Linked DNA regions of Homo sapiens: region 2 is linked to region 1. Evidence: fine-mapped expression QTL. A gene starts in region 1. The other region holds a variant in brackets. All regions are shown on one strand. Distances are from middle to middle.

Region 1 (8,339 bases):
TAGCTACAGAACTCTCCTCCTCCTCCTCCTCCTCCTCCTCATCATCATCATCTGGTTGCTTTTAGCAAGGTTCAGTAGCTACAGAACTCTCCTCCTCCTCCTCCTCCTCATCATCATCATAATCTGGTTGCTTTTAGCAAGGTTCAGTAGCTACAGAACTCTCCTCGTCCTCATCATCATCATCATCATCATCATCTGGTTGCTTTTAGCAAGGTTCAGTAGCTACAGAACTCTCCTCCTCATCATCATCATCATTATTCTTTATAGGGCACCCATTTATGGAAGGCCTACTCCCTGCCAGACATATAGTAACTCTACTCTTCAAAACAAACATAAAGGTAGACATTATCATCCTCATTTTACAGATGAGGCTACCAAGTCAAAGAGATTCAGCAATTTGCTTATGGTCACATGACATGCAGTATCAAAACTGAAATTCCACTTCAGGTCTGATTCCAAAACCCATCCTCTTGCCTCTATACCTTGAATTCCATTCCATCTCAACTGCTCAGACTTCTTTTTCGGCAGATGGTTCTATATAAAAGTGTTTGGTTACTGAAAAGATGGTTAGATGTTGAAATACCATCTCAACTATAATACACTCTCAGATAGTAAGCCAAAACAAGCAGGTGACTATACAATTGCACAAAGATGATGAGAATAAATGTAAAATCACCTTGAAATTTTCTTTAATAGTACTAGATCAAGGTGTGAAAATGTTTTAAAGTAAAAAGAAAAAATAGCAAACTAACACTCTGTATAAGAACATTAGTTGACTCTTTACTTCCCCAGATCCCAGTAGACACAGCACGTTGCCCTCACGTGCTGCTAACAGCTGCTAGAAGATGGGCATACTTTGAGTAACCCACATTGAGACAGCGTATCATTTGTTTCTGTTTGTGATTTTTCCAAAAGGGAATTAATGGAAAGGGGTATTTTATGTTTAATAGTATTTTTAAAAAGGAAAATAACTTCAGTTTAAAAAAGCTATTTCAGTCATGCTAGCCCCCATCTCACACTGACCAGCATTTGTCAAAGGGCACTGATATTTTAGGCAGGACAATTATTTGCTGTGTGAGACTGTTCTAAGCATTGCAAAACATTTAGCATCCCTGGCTCCCACCCACTAAATGCCCCCTCCCCTATTTGTGATAACCAAAACTGTCCCCACAATGAGAGCCACTGATTGCTACAGACTTCATTCTATTTCAAGACAGCTAGAGACTTTCTGTTTATTTATGTTTTCTACCACAGCTGCTTATTTAACCTTTCCTGGCAGTGCTTGTTTAGTTTTCTACTTCGCCCCAAAAGTTTTCCTTAAAAATAACACATTTGCTTGACATTTATTTGAATGAGATTCAAAAAGCTAATTTTGTAACTACATCATAATACAATAGTATATAATTACTGGTGACAAAAAATAAAAGCTTTAAGAAATAGCAGGGAACTGGGAAATCATCTATTCCAAGGGGTATGAGACCCCCATGCGAAACAAAACAAAAAAGTTGTATATATATGCATTTTTTTCTGGGATGAAAGTTCCATAATTTATATAAAGTACTCAAAAAAGTCCATGATCCAAACAAAGTAAAGAATCAGTAATCTAACAATTCTCTCACTCTATTAGCAAGGCCAATGACATGCAAAGTAGTCAACTGGATTAACAAGATTAAGACAGTACCATCAGTTCTTATTACCACAAACGTGTATAGTGAATGCCAGAAAATGACCAGACTCATCAAAGGGATAGAGGCGTCCACAAAACCATTTCACCCCCTACCATGCAACAATGAAATTCCTTTAAAAGCATGTTTATAATATCAGTTGCACACTAGAGGAGTCAGAGGAGTGGGTTATTTTCAAGGGAAAGTAAGCTCCCTTAGTTTACTTTGAAGTTTGTTTTTCTGATTTTGTACTGATACCATTTTCTTAAAACAAAGTGGATCTATATCTTTAAATATTAGTCTTACATTAATGATAAACTTGATGCTCCAAAATTTTTTTTAAAAATCTATATTTGAAAAATTTAGATTACTTGACAAATAATTTGCTGACCAGGGAAAAAGTCTCTGGTATAAAGATACTGTTTAAAGGACAATATGTCAATAGATTCTCGAAAACAATCTTGGTAAATAGGCAGGTGTTGTTAGTTTCCATTTTACAAAATAAAATAGGTTAAGTAACTTTCCAAGATCACAGAACTGTTACCAGGTAGCACCAGGACTAGGCTCACCCACTCTGACCCCATGTCCGGAGTTCTTCCTGCTTCACCACACTGCTTCCATTCACAAACATGGTACAAAACAATTTAAGTGCCACACAAGAAACCGTTTTTAAAATCATGTTGGTAAACTACTATTAATACCAAAATAATGTTTTCAACAATTCACAAAGAAAAACTTTCCACCAGACTTGAAAAATTCTACGCTGAGCCCTGGCCTAAAATTTCTGGAAAGTACAATACTAAACAAAAAGAAAAAAAGTTGAAATAATTTGCATAGATCAATGATGAATCATCAATACTGGAAAAACATTATTCCAGGTGTATGGCTGCCTATTAATGGATTGATATTATTACTTTCAGGTTAAAAAAGAGTTATAAGTGATTATGAGCTTCGTGAATAAAAATCAAGGTTCATGTTGGCCACTGAAACAACTTAGAGGCAACAAGCATTTGAAAACAAACACACATACAAAATCTTCTAGTAACCTTAAGAACCTGTTGCATTGTAACAACTGCAACACCCCCTAAAACCAAATGACAAGACCATTCCTCTTCCAATGATTAGCCGTAAAAGAAGTATTTTTACTCCCTCAGATAACCCTGTTTCTTCAGGTGCTTAGGTCACGTAAGCTACTAAATAATAAAGTTAAATTACTACCTCACATATTTTTCATCATATGCTCTCTTAATTAGAATAGCATTCTTGAAATAGAATAAGCACTAACATTAGAAAAAAACAGACTTAAATCAATGCAACAGTTTAATGCTCCCTAAATAAAAACACATCTACATGTATCATGGGCTAGAGACGTTAAAAATTTCTAGGAAGAAAAGCAATATTTGCCTTATAAACACTGCAACTCTTTCCTCTCAACATTAAAACCCAAACATAGAAACCAGTAAGTTAGCTGCATTTACAGCCCCTTACAGGTTTTAAATGTCACATCTCAGTGCCTAAAAAAGTTACTCCATCGTTTCGAGATAAGTTTCTGAGAACAAAGAAAACTCTTTAAACTACTGAACTGCATTTTATTCTTTCCTTTTCCGTGTGACCATCTGCAAAAGCAACAGTTGTCAGTTAAACAGAATCAACCTCTTTCCCGAGTGGACATGATTCACAGCTTGGTCACTGTACAGCAGATGTGAACTGAGAACTACGACATAACACAATGACAAAACACAGTACTGAGCACAAAGTACAGGGAAAGAATGAAAGACAGAAAACAGGAAGAGCACACGTCTGATTTTTGTTTTCTTTGGGGCCCCCATTAGTAGCATTCCCTTCATCCATCTTCATTCAGTGGTTCACTATCAGGGCCAAACCCAAAAGTTACAAAACACCATCTAGCTACTGTCTGGCTGCTTTTATTTTTTCTGCACCAGGACGGGAGCACGCATTCCCCTGCAGTCCTCAGCTCCACCGCAATACTGATACCAAACAGTTTCAGTGGCCCAGCTGCCAAGCCTAACCATTCCTTTTTAAAGCATTTCTTCATCAATCCTACAAAACAGCAAGTTCTTCATGGTATATTTTCCTAGAGCATCTAGCTAATATCATACTTTAACAACTTTTTCCAACGTTAACTGGACATGGGTCATTATCACTTAAGTGTTAGCGCCATTGCCCGCGCCCACTCCCATAATCCACACTGCTTTCCTTCTCCATATTGCCAATCCCCACTAAGCAACCCTAAAATCTAGTAATTATCATCAAATCCACTTCTAGGCCCTGGCAAGAATTATTTGGCTTTACCGAAACACCTATTCCATAGGTAACCAATTCCAGTCAAAAATGCCAGAGTATTACTCCTCAACCCAATGCCCTATCTCCTTAGTGGATTATAAACTTACTACGACAACCTGTCTTCTTTGGATCCAATCCCCGCCCAAGTCTGAGTCTTCTCTCCCAGGCTACAAGCCCCCAAGTCCTGGCAGCTCTATGCTTGACAGCTCGCTGACCTCCACCTCATCAGACCATTGGGTCGCCCTTCTCGCCGTCCTCCAGCCTTCTTCCCGCTCAGACACTCATCCACTGTCCGGGGAGCCTCGACCCCTCCTATACCCCCTCCCCGATCCCGCAGTCCCCTTCTGGACCTTGCGGACCCCTCTCAGGTAAGCGGAGCCCCTTGCCCTGCAGGCCCATCAGTGGTCCTGGCTCCCCGCACCTGCCACCAGGGTTCCCAGGCTGCAAAAACACAAGTAGTTCTTCTTCCCAAGGGCCACCCTCCTCCTCAGGCCGCTTTCCTCAGCACCACGTCACCCGCGCTTCGCCGGGAGACCCCCAACTCACCCCCGCCTCCGCCATCTTCTGGGACCAGCCCCCGTACCCCCTACCGCCTCTTCCTCCTCCACTCCCACAACTCCGCCCGAGCTCCACTGCGCCTGTGCGGCCAACGAGGCCGCGCGCAGGCGATCGGGGCAGAAGAGCTTCCGGTTCCTGCTGTCAATAAGACGTGGACCTGCGAGCCGGGGCAAAAGGGCTTCCGGTCTGCGGGAAACTGGAGGCTAGCGGTGGGCGTGGACCGTCGAGGTGACTGGCGGTTGTCGGATCTGCTGTTGTTTGCTGACCAGGCAGCCGTAGGTAATGACGGATGCCCAGACCCTGTGGGCGGAGTAAAGGAATCATGCACTGATACACGCACACTCACCGAGGGGCGCGTCCGTCTGCGTGCCCCTCATCTCGTAGCCGAAAGGAGCGCGTTCCGGGGCAGGCCTCCGGGTACTTCCCGCAGAGGACCGGGCTTTATACTCTTTGCTCCTTTTCCTCCCCTAGTAAGTCATAACTTATTTTGGGAGAAGGGCATAGTTATTTGTCTCTCGTCTCCATGCTACAGCACTTTATGTGCTTTTCATTCAAAATCGTTCCTCGAGGACGACCAAGTAATGTGATTTGGGGGACAGTTTTCATAGGAAGGGCTTTATAAGTTTACACCAACATAAAGAAAACTTAAAAACCTTATAACCGCTTATTTTTCAGAAGTATTATTTTTCATTTAATCTAAAACCATACTTTTAGAACATGAAACCAAGCCAAACAGATCTTTGCAGATTGTGCAAGCGAACTTTTTTTTTTGAATGAAAGTGGTGCCATCAATGCAAAAGCAAGCCCATATAAGTGCCGAAAGGTACTCGTCATAAGGAGGAGTTGCTTCCCTATTCTGAATTTTTATTTATTTTTATTTATTTATTTATTTGAGACGGAGTCTCTCTCTGTCACCCAGGCTGGAGTGCACTGGCATGATCTCGGCTCACTGCAACCTCTGCCTCCCGGGTTCAAGTGATTCTTCTGCCTCAGCCTCCCCAGTAGCTGGGACTACAGGTACATGCCACCATGTCTGCCTACTTTTTGTATTTTTAGTAGAGATGGAGTTTCATCATATTGGCCAGGCTGGTCTCAAACTCCTGACCTCGTGATTCGCCCGCCTCATCCTCCCAAAGTGCTGGGATTACAGGCGTGAGCTGCCCCCTGAATTTGTTTTTTTTAAGCAACTCTTTTTAAAAAGAGAGAAAAAATAATCTCTCTTGAGTGTATTAGTTATTGAGCTATTCCATTTGGAGGTGGCTTAACCCAAAACGTGTATGGATGTGGTAAGATTACAATGGACTTGAATGTTCTAGATGAAATCTGGGCCGAGAGTAATTGCATAATAGTTTTCCAAAGGACTGTCAGATGGTAAACTCCTTTCATTTACTTTGAACTGATAAACGATAAGATGGATTTTTGTTTTTTGACCTTTTTATCTACATTTACTTCTGAAAATTGAAAAAGAATCTGAATTCCAACAAAATGTTTCTAGGCAAGTATTTGCATGATGCTTCTCTAACATTTCCTATATCTTAGTGTTTTCTCTAATGTTTTCTGTAGCTTTCAAATTTCACTCCTGTAAGTTTTTACACTACCAGTAAGAAAGATCTGGGCCAATTATACAGAATGGACGATGATTTTTAAAAGAATAGAGAAAGCATTCAGAAAAGAGACAATAATTTGAAAATGTTCTGACATCATGTATTTCCTTAAAGCAATACAAGTCCTGTATGTCCAGTTCATGTCTACTCCAACCGAGCTTTTTTCAGACACTTAGAAATTGCCTTCAAGAAAATCCTTATGGAACATTGTAACCTAGAGGGGCATTTATTTTCGTTTAAATATGTATTAATTGCAAGTAGTGACAGAACCTAAAAAGCAAAAACCATATAGCACCAGTTCCAAGGTTCCTATATCTAATGCAGTTACTCCTACTGCAGTACAAGGAGGAATATAAAATCCCTAGGAGAAATACAAAAGGCCATTGTCTTCTTTGACCAGATTTGAGGAAAGTTTTCATGGAAGATGTGGTCTTTCAGTGGGCGTTGAGGGTAAATATGCAGATATGGTTAGCCTGTGCATTCTGGTGGAAGCTCAGAGTTGGAAAAACATGAAACAGATTGCAGAGTCTGGCATGTACAAAGAGGTATGGTGAGACATGTGAGTTCTAAACATCAGGCTCATGAATTTGGACTAAATTTTTGTTATGGAAACATGGAAATCCTAAATTAATTGATGCCAGAATATAAATTGGTTAAGAACATCAAGAAATCATAACAACTGAGTTATTTTGAAGTTGGTGTAATGTGGTCAATGGAACGCTGGTGAATGATCCTTGAAACCTGGATTGTATTTTAGCACTAAGACAGTATGCGTGTAATCACTTGCAATAAATTCATTTTTTTAGGCTTTCTTCTTTTCATCTGTAAAATGAGAGATTGGTTTAGATGATTTCTGAGGTCTTTTTTATAGGTAGAAGTATCAACAATTTGATAATTCTTGACCTCAAGAAAGGTTTTTTCCATTAGCTTTATATGTTGTTTGGTCTCCCAACCAAGAAGATCAAAGATAAGTTAGAAAACAAAAAGCCCTTTACTTAGCTAATACAAACACCCACAAAAGTTTATTGACTTTGTTGGAGTGAGATATTGTAGGAGTCACATTAATTATTGCCTACAGGTTGATGACTAAGCCATTCAGTAAGCCTCTAAGAACCTTGGACTTGGAAACATTACCCAAATTAAAAACATCCAAGATAATTTTTTTACTATTGCAATTTTCCTATTCAGTAGCTAGAACCCCACACACTACAGACCATTCTACTTTTTTGGTTTTGGTTTTTGTTACGGTGTTTTGATGTGAAATATGTTTGAGGGACATAGAAAGTCAAGGAATTTTGCTTTTTTGAGAGATCAGAATGGATTATTTACTAAGCCAGCTATCACCTGAGCACCTGGCAGGTACCAGACACTTGGCACTGGACTTTAGGAGGAAATCAATACAGACAAGCCACATTCCTTTGTGAAGCTAGAGTCCTGTGGGGGAAACACAGTAAATGGTGGAATTCATATGTAATTACAAACTGAGACAAGTGCCATGAAGATGGAACATCTCCATATTGTGATGGAGAATAAAGGGGAATACCTGGAGACCATGCGTGAGCTGAAGATTGAGAGGGATCTGCTAAGAGCAGGATGAAGAACAGGTGTGAGGGCACAAAAGCTGAAAAACTTGGTGCATTCTGGGAATTGAAAGAAAGGCAGAGCTGGGGGTAGCAATTGAAAAGAAAATTGCAAATTGAAGTTGTATTTTAACATCATGATTGATGGTAATCACTTTCTGTGTGCCAGGCACTGTGCTAAGTTAAATCTCATTTCACATGCTCAAAACCCATTTGAAATAGATACCAAATAGCAGATGAGAAATTAAGGCTAAAAGCAGTGATTCTTAACTTTGGCTGCATATTAGGATCACCCATAGATTTATTAAAAGTTCTAGTGCCCGAGCCCCACCTGAGCGTTGAGAATCACTGACTTAGTGTTAATCAGTCCAAGGTCACTTCATAGCTAAGTGGCAGAGAAGGCAGAAATTGAACCTAGATCTATTGGATTCTAAACCCTATGCTCTTAGTCACTCACTAGTGCCCTGTCAACATTCACAAGCACGTAGTAAGCAGCAGTTACATGTGGGAACTCTGTTAAACACTGAGACACAACAATGAATAAGACAGATCTCTTGCCATCAATAAATTCACAGCCTGGAAATGCAGAAGTTAGGTCAGCCCACCTCTACAGAAGCAAGTCAACTGAG
Region 2 (8,339 bases), 32 kb before region 1:
GACATCGAGATTTTCTTTGCAATGGTCAATGGTAGGATTAATTACTGTGGCTGTTCCATGGGCACTCGAAACTAAAATATATTCCCTAACTTCAGGGCACATAGTATGACATCTATCCATCATATCTACGTTTGTGATTATGTCGCTTAGGTCTTTTTATATCTTTATTTTCAGTCAAATTGATTTGAGAGGATGTGCTGCTTTTTCGAAACTGAGATGTAGAGAGGCCGAGGAGGTGCCAGTTCCTGCGGGAAGGTAGAGTATGGAGAAATCACAGGGTCTGTAGATCATCTCCAATCAAACATCACTCTGGCTGTAAAGAAAGGCCCCTGCCCCAAAATTCAACAAGGTCTATATTTTCTCATTTTTATTGGTATTATTTGAAAGGAGGAAGAATCAACTTTTTATTCAATCAGGTAATTTTTTATTGTTTTCTATCTTTCCTATACATAAATTTTGTTTCCCAAATCAAGTTGGAAAACTCAGTCCTCCTTTTATATCTCCATGGTGGGTAGGACAAGGTCTACTCATGGCTTGGTGGGGGATTTTAAATGGTGATGTTGCTAATAATTACACCTAAGCACTTACTATGAGACAAGTTCTCTTCTAGATATTTTGTATGTTTTAGATTATTTAACTCTTACATCAATTTATAATGCCACCATTTTACAAATTAAAAAAAAAAAAAGCAAGGCACGTGGACGTAAAATAACTTGCGCAGGTTCAAACTGCTAGTGAGCAGCAGAGCCGGGGCCCCAGCCTGAGACACTGTGCTCTGTTGCCGCTTTTAGAGACCAACTCACCCACTGGCTTCACTACATGCGTGAAGAAACAGGAACTTGAGTCTGCTAAGCAAGCTGCCGGGAGAACTAAAACTAGACCCCTGGTATTTGGACCTTTATCCAGAGCCTTCCTGCTGTGCATCGCTGCCCCTCACAATGCACAGAAGCTGTATTTGTGGCAGCAAGAGGTTGTCATTTGCTGGATGACATGGGTTAATGGTTTAATAGCAACTCCTGCCTACCTCACCTCACAGGACTGCAGGGCCAGCACCATAGGAGAAATAAAGATGATGTAATCAAATATTATCTAAATAATGTATACTTTTTGAGTCCTGAATAAATCACCCAGCTGTGGAATACATTCATGTTTAATATTACTAGGATATATAAAATGATTTAGGACTGGGGGGATTGGAAGTAAAGAAAACTAAAATTCCACAAGGGCCAAATCCTTCTAGGTGGGAAGACTTGTATTTTTTATAAGCACCTCCTCTCTCTCCAATTCCCATGCACATGACCTTCATTCTTTGTTTATAGATTGTGGGTGTCACCCTTGGAAACAGGCATTTTCCCAGAACAAGTAAGAACTAATGTTAGCCAATAGGAGAGAATACTAGTCAGCCCTCAGGGGAGAGGATGGCCATTAAAATATAGTACATAAAGGGATGAGCTGCTGGTATTTATCTCCAAGTCCAGCTTGCAGAGCCTTTCTCTGTTGCCAAAAGTGATCTAACATCTCCCTGCATAGCTTGGCTTCAGATGGTGAGATTTTTATTATTTTTTCATTCCATTCCACATTCATTCCAGTAATTATGAAAAAAGAAAGGAGTTATGACATATCTGGGGAGACTGACCCAGTGTATCAACTTTACTAAGAAAGGACATAATGGTTTTGGCAAGATAAGAGAATTTCATTCGGAAATTCCAAAGACATTCTATCCCAGTGGAGTTACTTGACTTGCCAAAAATCAAAGTTGTTTAGCTGGGTGGGGCAGGGACCTAAGCCAGATGACTAAGGGTGACACTCCTGGACAATCCACACAAGAGGCTTTCAGAAAGGCATTCTGATGCTGTGACTGGTGGTGTTCCACCTGCATTCATTCACGATGAGCCAGCAAGGTGAGATCGACAGCAAGCCCCAGAAACCTGGCCCTCTAGTGACACAGAATCTCTGTGAGGGGTATGGGAACAGAAACAGCGGTCTTTATCTCAAATCGTGGCACTATAAAGTAGTCCCACTACCTGCCTACTTTGGGCCCTACAGCAGAAACTGAATAAAATGCATTCCTATTATCTTAAAGAAAAAATTGACTCACGAGCCCTCTAACCTAATATTAGTATGTGGTAAACGCCAGATGAAGATGAAAGTAGCTAAAATTTGGGATGAATTTCTTGGAGAGATTCTAGAATTTCCTTTCCCAGTTCTCCTAGTTTTCATTTCAAACAAGATTCTGAAATGGTCTCCTTGTGGTTCAGCTCAGACTCAAGAGAACTGCTTCAATGGTGTCTCCAACCCCCTTGGCCTAAATGTTCTCACTTGCAAAGAAGATTCCACTTAAGAGGAAGTGCAGCCGGTTAATGCTTAACTACAGCAACTCCTCCTCTACACCAAGTGAGAAAGTTGGGCTGGGCTGAAAAATGGTTAGTTTTGCATGAAACTGAGTGTAGGTATTGTTTGAAAACCAGAGAACCCCAGAACCTCAAATTTCATGGGCCTCCAAGATCATTTATTTCAAACCATATATCTAATTGCTCCAAAAAGAAAAAATCTCTGATCTGTTTGGCAAGCAGTTTTCTCTTCCCACAGAGGAACACAGTCAACTGTAGGGCCTCTGTAACTTACATGTCACATGGAATCCAGCCTTACTTGGTAAAGGGAACATTAGCAAAATATCTTAGTCATGGTCATTTGGTTACAAAGAACAGAAAACCACTCAACTTTTAAATCATTTTTAAAGAGTTTATTGGAAGGAAAGCACAGGTTTCAGGGGAAGTAGAAAAATGTCAGATGCTTTGTCTCCCTCCCTCCCTCTCGCTCTCCCCCATCCTCCCCTTTTCCTCATCTCCAACTTCTGCTTCTCTCTGTAACTCATGCCTTTCTCTTGCTTTTGCAGCTTCCACTTCATTATGATTTTTTGGCTCTGACATAGGACAGTTTTTTTTGTTTGTTTTCTGTTTTTTACGTTTACCCTCATTTTTGTCATATTTTATTTTTTTCTGTGGAGAACCAGCCATGGGAATTGGTTTTCAGCAATGGACACCTGACCTGACCAAAGCCAATAAATCATGAGACTTTTGCTGAGACTTCAGAGAGGTGGGATGTGGAGGGGAGAGGACATGAGGATGGAGCTGCCAAAGCCATCCTGCCACTGTGAAGCACAAGACTAAGGCCAACACAGCAGAAAGGGCAAAGGGCTGGAAAGAAGCTAAGTCCTGATGGAGGCTTTCTGAAGTC[T/C]GAATCCCAGCTGTCCGTGAGACCAGTCCTGCTTTTCATTTCATGAGTCAATCACTGTATTTCTTGCCTAAGTCATCCATTAGCACAGCTGTCAGCCTTGGATTGCCATTGAGTCAACCCCATTCCTCCACCTGGCCTTGCACTCCAGTTTCACGACTAGCCTAGTTAGGAAGGATGTGCTCAGGGGAAGTGCAGTTTAATGTGGTTTCTAGGATATTCTTTCCAGGGTAAAGGGGGGCAGAGGAAGAAAAAAATAATCAACCTCTTCCATTTATTTTCATTAATCAGAGTCCTTGATCTGACAATTAGCCTAATCATATTTTTACTGTCCTGTCTTCACTAAGGTCATGAATGTCAAAATATAAAAGATCAAAGTATGCAGAAATCACTTCAAACTTCATAAATAATGCTTGTGATTTTTTTCATATGCAAGTCTAATGAAAATTGAGAAAACGATGTGTGCATTTCATAGTTATTCTCTTCTGGACATGCCAACCTCGGTCTTAAAATTGAAGACTATATTTAATGACTTAGAGGTTCAAATGTAAGTCATAAATTAAATTGCATCTGGTAAGGTGTACCTTACATTCTGCTTCTTCATTATGAGACCATATAACCCAATTCTTTGATTTATAAATATTTCCACTTTAATAAGTCATGACGCAAATAATCTTTCTCCAAACCTCTTGTTTCAAGACATCCAACTTACTGCACCACAAAATAGTAAATCTCAGGCTCAGAACTCCTTTCTTTGCCAAGAATTATACTAGTGAAGTTGTTCCTTGCCTCAATTAAAACTTACACTTGTTTAGAAAGGGCAAGAGCATAACTTCCACATATATGTTTAAGTTCCACATCTAACATTGTATAGGAATAAACCAGATTCCACCAACTTTCTGTGTTGACACCCACAGGCAGTGCAGATTGCATCCTGGGAAAAAGAACAAGGGCCTGGCTCTATGCCCAGCTGTACATACTAGCTGTGTGGCCTTAGCAGGTTGTGTATAATCTCTCTAAGCCTCTGTTTCTTCACATATGAAGTACTGACCTTATACTTTATAGATTGTAATATCAACTTTATGGCTTTATTGGGGACTTGAAATGAGGTGGTGTATGTAAAGCACATAGTAGGCATTCAGTGTTCATTACCAGCTACTACTTAAGGTAATAATTGCCCTTCATAATAGAAACATTCATAATTCATAAATGTCCATTTCCTACCAGTTGTCAACATACATGCTATGTTGCTGTAAACCTTGCATAATTATAAAATTAAATTTCCATCTTTCATAAATTGAAATGTAACATCACGCTAAAGCTACTGAAATGTCTGATTCTGCCACTGACTGGTTGTAGAACTCGGGACAAACGTAATCAATTTGTGGCTTTGCTTCTGCGTTTGTAAAATGACAAGATTGGGCTGTTCTAAATGAATTTTAGTGCCTCTTCCAACTTTACCATTCTTCTGAGTCTTATATGTCAGTTAAATGGCTGTTTAATATATACGAGTCATCATGGGATAATTGCATGTTTATCGTAAAGAAACCCAAACTCCTCTCGGAGGAAGACAAACTGTTGACATCTAAAATTAGTCTCTCAAATAATATTACCTCATGAAAGAAAAAGAAGTGATGGTAGTACAATTCATGCTCAGATTTTGTAATTTGGGAAATCTCTAAAAATTGAGAGATGTAAGAGGTGATGACAGAATAATTCATATGCTCACATTTTGTAATTTTGGAAATCTCTAAAAATTATTCTCAAAGGTAGAAAGTGAAATTGAATTTAGGGACATAGAGATACTCACGGAAAAGTATGTAGCAGAACACACCATTAGGTCTACAATCTGCAACTCCATATATAAATAAGCCTCCAAACCCATGTTGCCTTAGTTATTGGAAATCCGAATGACTGACATATTTCTATTTTTCTAGAAATGCAAAACAGACTTGTGTAATTAACCATTCCTTTGGTATTTATTTTGAAACCAACTGTGCATTTCTTGGCCTCTTCACATACAAATAATGCCAACGCCTACGCAGTTCCACAGAATTCTTGAGCAGTTCTCACTCACTCTGCCCATTTTTTTCTTGCCCCCCTCTCCATTACCTCATAAATGGTGAACATTTCAGAAATAACGATCCCATTAGAAGAAGGTCTCTACATGTCGCCTGTAAGGCTTGAGAGGAAAAACTCAAAAGATGCCTTCACATAAAAGTGGGAAAGGGAGCAGAAATGAAATTTCTAATGGACATAGCAACACAAGAAAGCGCTGTGCATGAAGAACCCAGCTTCTCTCTGACAGATGGTACGCCATGCATGCAGCTAGATGAGCAGCGTTCAGGGGCTTGCTCCATTGCAAATACAGAAACAATAAAAATGCATGTTGATTTTTAAACAGATGTGTAATTAAGTATGACATTCTGATAGAGGTTTACCAAGGCAGAACAGCTGGATTTGAGGAGTCCTAATATGGGATACTGTTTAAGTTATTTAAATGTGATTCCTAGGATGGCAAAACTTCAAGAACTTCAACTTGTCTGTGTGTGTGTGTCTTTGTGTCTGTGGGTTTATGTCTGTGTGTGCATGTGTGAATACGACTGGATCTATGGCTTAAGGTGGTGCATACCCAGCTGAAATTTTCTTGGAGCTTAGAAAAGCAAAGGTTGCAACCCTTATACTCAGTTGCCCTGGGCAAGCAAGAAAAATATGTCAAGACCCAGGTCTTGCTGTTAAGGCTGGAGTTGAGAAATGCCCTCCAAATGCCTTCAAGTCAACATTAGCTATGACAGAAGCAAGACTATTATTTAACAATAGCAGCAAACGTCAAAAACAAACTGTGCCTGGCATTTTGACAAGACACTACTGAAAGAGAACCACTTTTTCAGCACTTGTGTAACCGTGGGGGAGAACTTGACAATTAATATCCTGAGGTCTGGTAACAGGATTTCCAGGCTGCTTGGTGGTTTCCTTCTGATACAAATGAAAGGAGTAGGCAAGTGGAGGACATGGGCAAAAATAATCCGAAACAATGAGGCCTAGAGAAAAGGACTGATACATCAGAAATCAGGTACCTTGTGGCTAATTAAAATGTAACTCCTCCCTCAGGAGACTGCACTCTCACGGTGGTGACACTATAAAGTATGAGGACAGAGCCATCATCCCTAGGTGAAAATAAGATGCTGACAAAATCTATCTCCTACCTCCCATCTCCTTTCCTCGCTCTCCAGCAGACTCATGCCATCCTGCGGCACCCTACCTAAGCTTCCCTCCATGGAAGCAGCCCCTGCCGGAACTGGCCAAACCCTCATCCCTGCCGTCAATCAATCAATTAATCAGTATAATAACAACCAGCCAGTTTCTGTCCTATGTCCTTAAGAATTTGCTCCCTGTTAACTAACCGATGAGTGGAGCTGTGGCAAGGTGTCAGCAAGCACAGTGATTCGTGTACTATGCTTCCTCTCATTTTGACAGAAACATTAGGGAAGCAACCTAATCCAAAGTAAATGCCAATGTGCTGGCTCCACACTCATGCTTTGAAGTGAATGAGGAGAGAGGGAAAGGAACCAATACTTCACTGGAAAGCCCTTATGAGCTAAGCCTTTGAAATGTTATCACAGTTAATGTTAACAGCCCTCAGACAAAAGTGGTATTGTGTCTCCATCTTACAGGTAGCAACCTGAAGTTTAGAAAGCATGAGGAACATGCCCAGCGTCCCAGTCTGCGAGTAACTCACCCAGAGTTAAAGCCTGCGTTCTCTCTCTCCCACAGCTGACTCTTCCCTGGCTCTCTCCACCACAACCCAAGATCACACACCTTGATCAGACTCAGAATGTTCTTTTTCTTTTTCTTTTTTGAGACGCAGTTTCACTCTTTTTGCCCAGGCTGCAGTGCAATGGCGTGATCTTGGCTCACCGCAACCTTCGCCTCCCAGGTTCAAGTGATTCTCCTGCCTCAGCCTTCCGAGTAGCTGGAATTACAGGCATGTGCCACCATGCCTGGCTAATTTTGTATTTTCAGTACAAACAGGGTTTCTCCATGTTGGTCAGGCTGGTCTCAAATTCCCGACCTCAGGTGATCCGCCTGCCTCGGCCTCCCAAAGTGCTGGGATTACAGGCGTGAGCCAACGCGCCCGGCCTTCTTTTTACATAAGAGCCTGGCAATGATGCTTTTTAATAAAGGGAACACCAGGAACTGTGGTGGGTGTGGCAGTCTTACTTGCAGGCCTCCTAAAAGGAACCCCCATGGACAGCTGTAGATCCTGCCTGAGAAGAAACATGAGTACAGGAGCCATTTAAATCCTCAAAGAGAAGCCAATCCCTATGTTTTAGAAGTCCTCCCTTCCACCCACTTCCTCTACCTGCGACTTTACTACCACCAGACCAGACTTTCGGTTCTTGAGAGAACATGCACGAATCTGTCCACGTGGGTTTCCTGTCCATACCATCCAAGGAGAAAGGCCTTGGCCTCCTCCAGCTGGGTCTGCTCCTTCCTTTGAACCCCATCGGTACCTATGCCCACACCTTTCAGAGCTTTCCTGATCAGTGTCAACATGCTGCTCTTCCTCTTACAAAATGTACCATCAATACAGCCCAGGCACATGGCTCCCACAAAGCTAGCCACTTATATAGTATGGGTCACATCAAAAATGACTCCAGCACAATCATTCATACAGACTTCTCTCACACTAAACCTTTAAACAAGGTGAGAAGTCAAAACCTGTGAAGACTGTCTCTTTTCAGCTGGGTGCAGTGGCTCACTCCTGAAATCTCAGCACTTTGGGAAGCTGAGGTAGGAGGATTGCTTGACCTCAGGAGTTTGAGACCAGCCTGGGCAACATACTGAGACCCAGTCTCTACAAAAAGTAAACAAAAGTAAACAAAATTAGCCAGGCACGCACCTGAGGTCCCAGCTACTAGGGAGACTGAGGTGGGAGGACTGCTTGCCCTGGCTGAAGGTTGAGGCTGTAGTGAGCCATGATCACACCACTGCACCACTGCACTCCAGCCTGGGTGTCAGAGGAAGACTCCATCTCTCAAAAAAAAAAAAAAAAAAAAAACCTATCTCTTTCCTATCTGTCAGATTTCCACATGGGTCTGGGT

Alleles and levels. Positions count from the first base shown, and alleles are read on the strand shown. Sizes are in standard deviations (SD) of each study's normalised expression.
In carriers of allele T in region 2, the expression in subcutaneous fat of the gene that starts at base 4,585 in region 1 tends to be higher than with C alone (moderate effect, 0.72 SD a copy in GTEx).

The links. PIP is the estimated chance that this variant, and not a neighbour inherited with it, causes the effect.
Region 2: its variant is fine-mapped to the expression of INSIG2 in subcutaneous fat (GTEx, PIP 0.98).

What each region holds. Positions count from the first base shown.
Region 1 is chr2:118,084,717-118,093,055 of GRCh38, reverse strand. INSIG2 (insulin induced gene 2) reads right to left here and starts at 4,585. Exons shown (of 6, transcript NM_016133.4): 1 at 4,515-4,585. LOC107985940 (a long non-coding RNA gene) reads left to right here and starts at 4,625. Exons shown (of 3, transcript XR_001739662.3): 1 at 4,625-4,805. RefSeq lists enhancers at 4,631-4,820, 4,831-4,880.
Region 2 is chr2:118,117,151-118,125,489 of GRCh38, reverse strand. No RefSeq gene overlaps it. Among named protein-coding and RNA genes, the nearest start is that of INSIG2, 33 kb to the right of the region's middle. RefSeq lists an enhancer at 1,272-2,471. The variant T/C (reference allele first, on the strand shown) is at 3,238.